Linked DNA regions of Homo sapiens: region 1 is linked to region 2. The links come from fine-mapping of genetic effects on gene expression. Tissue or cell type: breast. Region 2 holds a variant in brackets; the other region holds the start of a gene. All regions are shown on one strand. Distances are from middle to middle.

Region 1 (5,221 bases), 29 kb before region 2:
AAGAGAATTAGAAGCCCGTTCATACTCATTCCTTTGAGGATGAAAATATACTCATCTTATTTCAGAATCAAGTCAAAATTAACTTCTTTCAGGATGCTTCCCCCTGATCACCCCCAACACCTTCCAAGCCAAAATTAACCCATATCCATTAGAATTTTAACATCTAAATATATGTTCTGACAGTCACCTGAAAGCATGCCATTTCAGAGCCAGGATCATGTGACTGTGCCTCCTTGACATCTTTTCTTCACTTTAGGAGTGTTAGCCTCCTTGCTGGTTGATTTCTGAGACAGGCCCCACATAGGGTGGGGCTCAGGCAGGCAGAAGAGAGAGAGAGATTATGGAAATAGCATTGGCCTGCTGGCTCAAAACCATATACCTGAGCCCCAAACCAATCCTCCCAGCCTGAGTATATCTCCCTCACCGTGGCCCAGAATGTGTAACCTGACTTCTCTTTCCTCTCCTCCTCTGTCAGAAGGGCCTGATTCAAGATGTCCTGCCCTACAAATCCCCACAATCGACAGAATTATAGAATGTTGGGGCTAGAGTGGAGTTTAGGAGCCACGAAGTTTACCCGCTCTCTTTGTAGATTGGTGCAAGGGACGGAGGAAGGCACTTGTCTAACATGAAGCTAGTTAGTGACACAACTAGATCAGGAACCCAGCTGGCCTGACTTTCGTGCCCTGTGATGGGAATGGATGCTGTTAAAATACCTATCCAGAGAAGGATCTGCTTGTCACAGAGAAATCTCGAGGCGGCAGCCTGGCACTGCCACTGAGTGTCCAGCTCTGGATTGCAGTTGCCTTGTCTGCCTGTTGCCAGCTGGGTGGCCTCATGGAACTTCAGTTACCTCATCTGAAAAAGAAGGGTGATGGTGCCCACCTCATAGGGTCATTGTAAGGATTTAAATGATGTGGTTCGTGTACAGGGCTCAGAACAATGCCTGGTTGGTAGGCATGGTGTTTGGAGGAGCATAGTAAATGCTATTGCTATCAATATGTCAAAATAATGTCAATATTAACATAGTAGAGAAGTAGCTAGAAAAACTGAACTTCATACCTGGAAACAATTTTAAAGATAATCAGTTCTGCTTCCACGGACTTGCCTTTTATAGGAAGATGAGCTACTCTAATCCCCTCCTTCAGGGCCCTTCTATATCCTAGAATAGGAAAATTATCGTTATTTAAAGATGTAATTAACATTTATTATGGCTAGCATATTAGGTTTTAGATAGGCCAAATGTGTGATACAATAGAATTGTATTTTTATATGCTGCTGTGTATACTTTACAGTACATTGGGGCCCTTATATAATCGGTGTGCACTGTACTTTAATGTCCATTTTATAGGACTTTTATAAGGGAAGCTGGATGATGTGGTGGAATGAGCACTGTGCCAGGAGTCACAAGGCCTGGTTAGGATGCAGGCTTTGCCACATATTAACTGGGGCATTGCAAGCAAGCTACCTCCTCTCCTAATCAGTGAAATGCAGTGCTTGGCTGGATGAAGTCCAAGGCTCTGTCCAGTCCTGGCGGTCTATGGCTAGAGGCAGAATCTTACAATATGAAGTGATAATAGAGGTTTACAGGTATTTTGTACACATCTATGACATATTTTTTATCACATCTCTGGTTTACTTGAGGTTAAGTTCTTAGGAACAGCGCCCTCAATAATAAAACTGTTTCTATTGGAAACTATAATCTGCTTTACAATAATCTGCTCTGCAAATTGCTACTAGGAATACCTTCCTTGGGAAAGCTGGGGCTCCCCGCATGTAACACCCACATCTCAGGAGTTGCGTGAGTGACCTTCATGTACATGGTCCCTGAGACAGTCATTCAGTCTTCTTGATCCTTCCTCGACATAAAATTCCCAAAAAGAATAGATTTCTGATTGTCCTTTCCTCTGTAGATTAGAAGAGCAAACTAAAAGTAAAATATGTGAGCTGTGAGCGGCAGCCTCAAATGACAGCAAGAGTGACGGCTGTGATAGTGTCACACACTGGTGGAGGCCCCAAAACTAAGAAACTGACCGGACAGCACGACTACACAGTTCAGTAATGGATGTCCAGAATGAGAAACCCAGGGCATCAAGAAGTACAGCAAATATGTTCAGTGTTGTTTGCTTTAGGAGGCAAACAGAATGCGATACCTTTTAGAAAGATTTCCATCAAAGTAAATACTTAAAAAAAAAAAAAAACACTCAGCTCCTGTTACACACCAAATTCACTGATGTGGGCTCCCTCCACGCCTGGAGAGGATGCTACATGAATAAAGCTTCACTGCACATGTGTCCCCAGGGGTGAGTGTATATAGGGGAATGCACACAGTGGTCCCAGAATAATAAGTCCAGAGTGAAATTTCAGGGTAAAGCAGCTTTTCAATTTTTCAGTGAGGATCTGGTTAGGATCCGAGTTAGATTTAATTTACCTTAAATTAACTAGCATTCACGTATTCACCTATTTAAAATATTTTTTATTAAGCGCCTAATATTATGTGTGCCAGGCATTGTTTTAGAGGTTATAGTGGAGTTTCAGAGAGGATCCGCTGTTCACGTGGTGTTTTACCGGGGTATACTCATGAACAACAAATAACCACCGGTTTTACCAAGGCATACCCACTGTGTGGTCTGATATCCCAAGTCTGCTCCTTGATGTGGCCTTACTGCCCCTACCCCACTTTCTTCAGAGGAAGCTCCTTTAGAGTAGACTGGGTTACCCCCATAAGATGGAGCACTCCTTTGGAGCAAGAGCTATGGTTCTGCCATCAGCCCGGGAGCCTCCACCGCCGGGGTTGGTCTCTGCTATGACCTCAGTACAGAGGGAGATGGACGCCTGGCTCTCCTGGGCAGCCTGGTCAAGAAAGACTCCTTTCTTTCCTAGAGAGAGGTCTCCCTCGGTTCCTGAGCTGAGCACATGCTTTCTCAGTGAGCCGGCAGAACAGGACAGAGGGGCGTCTCCCTGGGGCCTCAAGGCTTGCGACGTTTCTTGCTCATGGGGAGAGGGAAGGGAGAGAAAAAAAAGAGCGAGCAGGAAGGCGCCCAGCGTCCCACACAGGGGACTCGCAGCCCTGCCCCCAAGAGCGCTGGCTCCGCAGCAGCAGTGCCCTGCAGCTCCGCGTCTGAGCAGCAGCAGCGCGCGGCCCGGTGGAGTGGGTGGTGCAGGGCAGGGGTGGTATATCCTGTCTGACGGAGGGCGGGCCTCGCCAGTGCCAGAGAGGGACGAACCAGGGTGGAAGCGCCAGGAGCAGCTGCAGGGAGCCCTCACGCGGACCACGCACTCTATGGCCGTAGGGAGCCGCTGAGAGCGAGAAGAGCACGCTCCTGCCCGCCCGCTGCACCGCACCTCGCCTCGCCTCTCTGCTCTCCTAGGCCCCGGCCGCGCGCCACCCGCCTCCCGCCACCATGAACCACTCGCCGCTCAAGACCGCCTTGGCGTACGAATGCTTCCAGGACCAGGACAACTCCACGTTGGCTTTGCCGTCGGACCAAAAGATGAAAACAGGCACGTCTGGCAGGCAGCGCGTGCAGGAGCAGGTGATGATGACCGTCAAGCGGCAGAAGTCCAAGTCTTCCCAGTCGTCCACCCTGAGCCACTCCAATCGAGGTAAAGGCTCGGCCCCCGCGTGGTCCGTGCGCCCCTTTCCAGAGCACCCTGGCCCAGTGGCGGGGACCAAGAGACGCACGCATCCCCGGGGATGAGGGGAGGCGAGGGGCTGCCGGCCCCAGGCAGGGTCTACGCACCTAGTGCGAGCAGCCGAGCTCCCAGCCGGTTCTGAGCTGGTGTAAACGCGACCCGAGGCTGGCTCGACGGCCCCGCGAGCTCGATGGCGCGCTAGTGGGCAAGGATGGGTGATTCACCGGGACACAGCCAGGAGCATGTCCCAGCGTGCCAGGAGGTTGAGGATCCCCCGCGAGCGGTTCTCCTGTCCCTGAGCCCTGGGTCTGGACGGCTTTCTCTTTCGGATGCTGCTCTAGGGATCTGCCCTGCATCCTGTCTGGCCCCGGCTGTCCTGGGGCCCATGGTCCCCGCGCTCGCAAACGGTTGTGGGCCACCCTTCACCCTTCCTGGGCTTGATCTCCTGGCCTTCAGCTGGAGGCCGATGCCCAGCGTCCAGGCCAAGGGGAACCCCAGTCCCTGTGGGGCCGCGCATGAGTATCCGCGAGCGGGGTGAGGGAGTCGCTGAGACAGGAGTGCAGCTCAGGAGAGGCGCTGCGGGACGGGAAAGTGGCACAGGGAGCAGGGACGAGGGCCTGGAACTCCAGGGCACTTTATCGAGAGCCTCCTGAAAGAGGCTAGCCTAGTTGGAAGGCCGCCCCAGGGCCAGTGGGTCCCTTGACGACAGGGAAGGGGGTCAGGGATGCTTTCTTTCCCGAATAGCCAATGCAGAAATCCTCTTTCCCACTGGATTCTTCTTACCCCACCCAGCTTAGGTAGAAACAAGTGTCTCATGGGGAGAGTACGGAATGGCAGGTTGGAAATCCCCCCGGGCCCCAGGGAGACCTCCAGCTGAACCCTCACGGGCACTTTTCCAAGCTGGATCCCGGGCCTGGCACCCCCTCCTCCAGCCTCTGAGAGGCCAGATCCCATGACTGGGGGAACCTGGGAGAAAGGGGCAGCACCCAGGAAACTCAAGGAGGAAGGGGCAGTACCTGACAGGGGAGAGCTTATAGACCAAGTAAACACTTTGATACAAAGGATGCCTGGTAAGAATTACACACAAGTGAGCAAAGATTCCACTTGTTTATTTATTTACTTATTTTATTTAGCTAAGTTTAGTAAAATGCTAATAAGACTTTACCCATTACCAAACAGTACAGGTCAACCAAGACTTATGTATTAAGACAGGCCTTAGGAGAGAGTGAGGGGCAGGGGGTAATAAGGTGGAAGGAGACAAAAGAAACCGACCCTGGCCCTTCCACCACACACACACACACACACACACACACACACACACACACACACACCTCACACTTCCTTCTACCTGTGGCTTCTGTCCCCCCACCTACTCCCTAGCCCCCATTCCTGAGTGGCCCCTTGTAGAGCCGAGGGAAGGAAAATGGCCGGCAGAGGACTTCCTGGGCCCCAGACCTAAAGGCCTTTGCTTCTCTGTGTGCTCTTTGCCTTTGTGTGGGCTCCAGGCTCCTCTCGTCACATTTCCACTCAAGATCATGCCACCTCCAGAGCACTTGCCTCCTTCCCTTTTATTTGGTGCCTTGGTAGG
Region 2 (5,221 bases):
GGGCTTGTATTGCTTCACTGAGACTGTCTCCTTGCCTATAAAGGAGGGGTTGGCCTCTGAGAGCTTCCTGACTTAATGAGGGACAGGAATAGAGGGGAGCTTTCAGTGTGGGGTTAAAACACCCCACTTCTCCAAGAAGGAAGGGGAGAAGGGGAATTACACAAGCAGGCGGCAAAGCGGGGACTGGCTGGGGGGCTCCTAGCTAAAAGCAGCTTTTCCTGGCTCACCTCGGGCTGTGGGACCCCTCAAAAGCCCCACTGGTCTCCCAAGTGAAGAAACATGTCTCTCAGAATGCTCTGGATTTCTGTCTGGCTGTCCAGTCTAGCCTGCTGTCTGGCAGAGTGACCAACTCTGCTCTCAGGAAATTGAGTTTCCAGCCTCTGGAATGTTCTGATCCATGGGATAACCAGACAAGAGGTTGTGTGTGTGTCACTGTCCTTTGTATTCAAACAGCCAGACGCTGCCAGCAGATTGCTATCTGAGTGTGGGGGTGTGGCTGGGAGAGCCGGCATTGGCGGTGAAGCTCTCCCACCTGCAGCGGGCGCACGTGCACTGCCCGTGCATCCTCTTCTGGCTGCAGCTGCTCTCTCGGGACCTGGAAGACAGTGTTTGGAAACGTGTGGGGACATTTTGCAATGACTGTGAGGCATTACTAGCATTTAGAACCTGGAGGCTGGGGCACTAAACATCCTGCCATGCTTGGGACAGCCTATACAAAGAATTGTCCTGCCTCAGGTGCCGACAGCACCCAAGTAAAGAAACACTGCACCATTCATCATAAAGCCTGGCTTCACTCGAAGTGCCCCATCTGGGCAGACCATGCTCCTCCACTTTTCTGAGACATATTTAGACCCATTCTATGTCTGTGGGGTGAGACTAGCACGGGGCTCTGATACTGGTGCATACACTTTCCTGGGCTGTCTTGGCTTCCTGGGTTCATCCTCTCTCTTATGACACCTGGTATCCCATTTAGGTATGTCACAGGTGACATAAAATCTCTCCTTTAGGAGCCAAGTCCTAAGGCAGCCAGCCTGTGCCCAATCTAAGAGTCAGAGGGATATGATGTCCCTACCGAGCAAACACTCATATCGTGGACTGTCCTGAGTGCTTTACTAACATTAGTTCACTGGATTCTCCCAACAATCCTCTATGTTGGCTACAATTATACTAGTTTTACAGATGGAAAAACTGAGGCACGTTGGGCTTAAGTAATTGCCCAAGGCCACCCATTGGGCAACGACAAGGCCAGGCAGGCTGGCTCCAGAGTCTGTGTTCTTGACCTTGGGTCTTCCTCCAGTTTGTAGATCTCAGCCCAGTGAGCTGGAGGAAGCACCTGGATTCCCAGGCAGTTGCTGCCGTTTCAGCCTTCAAGGCTGCAGGCTTCATCCAGGTCCCAGGCCAATTTGTGCAGGGAGAGCTGGTGGCAGTTCACCTCCTTGTGCCTTGGAGGGAATCCAGGCCCCCTCATGGTACTTGGGGAGGACGGGGTCTGAGAGGAGGCTTTACTCCTGCTTGTCAAAGTGACAGCAAAGGGCCATGATGATGGGAGAGAGTCATACCCAGCTGTCCTCAGGCAGCACAGCCCACCAGCACCATGACACTAGGAGCTGGGGTGGGGTTCCCAGGAATGGGTGACGCCACTAGGGTGTGGCTGATGGTGGTAGGCTGGGAAATGCAGTCCCACGGGGATGTCTCTGCCTTCCCCACCTTGCCCGCTCCCCTGCAGGTGCAGCCAATGCCCATTCCCTGTGGGCAGCCCACCCTTGCTGAGACTTGGCAAGGCTGCCAGCTGCTCCTTTTCCCAGCACAGGAAAGCAAAGCCCAAAGCCTCTGAGAGGCTCAATCAGCATGATCACATGTTTGCTGGTTTTGGGCCAGGATGAGTGTTTGGGCTTCTCATTAGGTGTCTGAGATGACGTCCAGGCGTGTCGTTTATGGAGAACAAGGGTGCTCCTTGTTGCATTTCCATTTAAGGCTTAGCTGGCTCTTTGCCCTTTGGCAATGCTGGGCTTCCCCCTCCATGTTGTCATCTGCCACCTTCCTTCCCCTGAGAGGAGAATGGAGGGTGTGGCCATTTGTAAAGGCTTTCATGGCATATTTTGCCTGTAATCTGCAGGACACGCATTCCATACCCAGATGCTCAGAAAATTGCCCAGCTGCTCTCCCCATGCCTTGTGATTGTCCATCTATGCCTCTCCCAACAACCAGACACCAATTCTCTTTGGAGTAGGTTGGTTGACCCAGTTTGGGGAAGAAAATTATGCCTGCCTGAGTGCACAGCTGGGCGTGTGGGTGAAGGGGATGAGCAGGCTATTGCCAAGGTTAACAGTCTGTGGCTTCTGAGTTTTGGATGCAACTTCTGACTGGTGGTTTGACACCCAGTCTTTCTGGGAGCTCAAACCATGGGAGTTTCCTGCTGTCTGTGACTCCCTGCAGAGATGAAAAAGGACCAAGTCGAGTGCCAGCCCCTCCCCAGCTTGTGTGGCTAGATCTGGTGCAGAAGGGAATTACCCAGTTGCCTAACGACCTCCCCTACACACACATACTCTCTCTCTCTCAGGGAGGGGCAGGGGTGGGCGGGCAGGCCCTAGGTTGCTGGGTTTGGCCCTGGCCCATCCCAGCAAAGGTGAGTCCCAAGTCAGCACCTGTGTGGAGATGTTTTTTTATCATACTCGATGTTGATC[C/T]TCTACTATGAGAACAAGTTGGAGCAGGCCAGACCCACCAGCTTGTGAGCTCCTGGGAAAGTCCTCCTCGGACAGTTCTGTTCCAGAACTGATTCGCACCAAGTCTCCAACCTCACAGGCCCCTCCCAAGGAGGCCGACTCCCCACTTGGGCTCACACAGAGCTCATGAGGCACCTCATTGTCTGTTGTATGTTTTTGTGCCGGATTGAGCCTCTGCCCAGCTTCTCCCCATTGCCAGCCTGACAACAAAGCCCAGGAGGCCCTCCCTGTACCCCACCTTGCAGCCCCAGGCCTGCCTCCATGTGTGCACGCAGGCCCCTAGCTCACAGTCCCTTGTAAAAGGGCCCAGGGAGCAGGAATATTGTCCCTCTTTGGCCTTTGAGGTGACCTGTTACCCTTTGCTTCTTGCCCTGGAAGAGGGGAGGCAAGATGAAGAGTTTAGCAGAAAAGAACAGTAGAAAACAGTCCTGGCCAGAATAGAAGTTTCTGTGTGCTGAGTATAAGGGGCCCAAGAAGGCTGGCTGTGTGAGAAGCTGCTGGTGTCTGGGAATGGCATAGGGCTTGGAGACCCAGACTCAAGTCCAGGTTTTGTCCTTTCCTCACCGAGTGACTACTAGAAGGTCACTCTTCTCTGGGCCTCCAACTCCCCCTCCTGGACTGTACCATGTGGGACCAGATCAGAGGTTGTCAAACTTTTTTGACAGCAATTCACAGTAATAAATGCGAAGGATTGTTCTGCCTCAGGTGCCGACAGCACCCACGTAAAGAAACACTGCACCATTCGTCATAAAGCCTGGCTTCACTCGAAGTGCCCCATCTGGGCAGACCATCCTCCTCCACTTTTCTGAGACATATTTAGACCCGTTCTGTGTCTGTGGGGTGAGACTAGCATGGGGCTCTGATACTGGTGCATACACCTTTCCTGGGCTGTCTTGGCTTCCTGGGTTCATCCTCCCTCTTATGACACCTGGTAGCTCCTTTAGGTATGTCACGTATGTTGCAACCCAGTACCCATACACTGTTTCACAAAACAATGTGTGACTTTACTACCTGCACTGCACTCTGATATTTTATATTCCAGGATATATTATTCTATTCCATCTTTTTAAAAATGATGGCCATAGTCTTCTAAATTGATTTTATAATCCACAATGGGTCACAGCCTGCAGTTAGAAAAGTAATATATCAGATGATGGCTCAGGTTCCTTCCACGCCAAACATTCTGGGATTCTGTAAGCGTTATTATGGGGGCTGGGGAGGGCTGTATCTCATGCCCTGCTGGATCCAGGACCCCCATTTAGGAACCTTGACTGAGCTTTTCTCCCTTTCCCTGGCCAGATCTACAATGGAACCCTCAAGCGGGAGCCTGACAACAGGCGCTTCAGCTCCTACAGCCAGATGGAGAACTGGAGCCGGCACTACCCCCGGGGCAGCTGTAACACCACCGGCGCAGGCAGCGACATCTGCTTCATGCAGAAAATCAAGGCGAGCCGCAGTGAGCCCGACCTCTACTGTGACCCACGGGGCACCCTGCGCAAGGGCACGCTGGGCAGCAAGGGCCAGAAGACCACCCAGAACCGCTACAGCTTTTACAGCACCTGCAGTGGTCAGAAGGCCATAAAGAAGTGCCCTGTGCGCCCGCCCTCTTGTGCCTCCAAGCAGGACCCTGTGTATATCCCGCCCATCTCCTGCAACAAGGACCTGTCCTTTGGCCACTCTAGGGCCAGCTCCAAGTGAGTGCTGCTGGGCTGGGTTGGGGAGCCAGGAGGGCCAGTGGGGAGACACACCCTTAGCCTGACTGCACCCTGCAAAGGGCTCCTGGGATGACAGGAGAGACATAGCTTCTGTCCCTGGGGAGTTCATTGCCCCTGGTGTAATGGACTCCCTAATGGGGAGAACCTGGCCCCATGGGCCCTTGAACTCAAGAAGTTCTTAGTGTGAAGGTGAAACAGACATTGACTGTGTAGGTTTTAAAGGTCACAGTTTATGAACAGAAAGAGGCTAATAGTTCTCAAAGTGTGTTCCTCCAACCAGCAACATCAGCATCACCCAGGAATTTGTTAGAAATGCTCATTTGGGGACCCACCCAGACCTATTGTCTCAGAAACACTGGGAGAGGGGCCCAGCAATGCATATATTAACAAGCCCTTCAGTGATTCTGATTTACACTAGAGTTTGAGAACCTCTGATCTTAGGCATGTAAATCTCTATCCATGTTCTGAAAGAGCAAAGGAATATGCCCCGGTATGGACGACGGGAATAGAATGGGTTTCAGGTTACGTTATAAGACAGGTAAATCCAAAGGACAAATAGGACAAATAGACATAAAAACTGAGGGACATGGCCTGGGTGTGGTGGCTCACGCCTGTAATCCCAGCACTTTGGGAGGCCGAGGCAGGAGCGGGTAGAGGGTGCTTGAGCTCAGGAGTTTGAGACCAGCCTGAACAACATGATGAAACCTTGTCTCTACAGAAAAATACAAAAATTAGCCAAGCATGGTGGCGGGTGCCTGTAGTCCCAGCTACTCAGAAGGCTGA

Direction of the effects. Positions count from the first base shown, and alleles are read on the strand shown. Sizes are in standard deviations (SD) of each study's normalised expression.
For the expression in breast of the gene that starts at base 3,205 in region 1, allele T in region 2 goes with a lower level than allele C (small effect, 0.24 SD a copy in GTEx).

What was found. PIP is the estimated chance that this variant, and not a neighbour inherited with it, causes the effect. A credible set is the group of variants that fine-mapping cannot tell apart.
Region 1: PKP1 starts here. The variant in region 2 is the best candidate, but not a certain one, in a credible set for the expression of PKP1 in breast (GTEx, PIP 0.55).

Annotation. Positions count from the first base shown.
Region 1 is chr1:201,280,302-201,285,522 of GRCh38, forward strand. It overlaps PKP1 (plakophilin 1), which reads left to right and starts at 3,205. Exons shown (of 14, transcript NM_001005337.3): 1 at 3,205-3,603. The coding sequence starts at 3,402. RefSeq lists an enhancer at 3,046-3,575.
Region 2 is chr1:201,309,144-201,314,364 of GRCh38, forward strand. It overlaps PKP1 (plakophilin 1), which reads left to right. Exons shown (of 14, transcript NM_001005337.3): 3 at 4,023-4,417. Among named protein-coding and RNA genes, the nearest start is that of PKP1, 28 kb to the left of the region's middle. The variant C/T (reference allele first, on the strand shown) is at 2,685.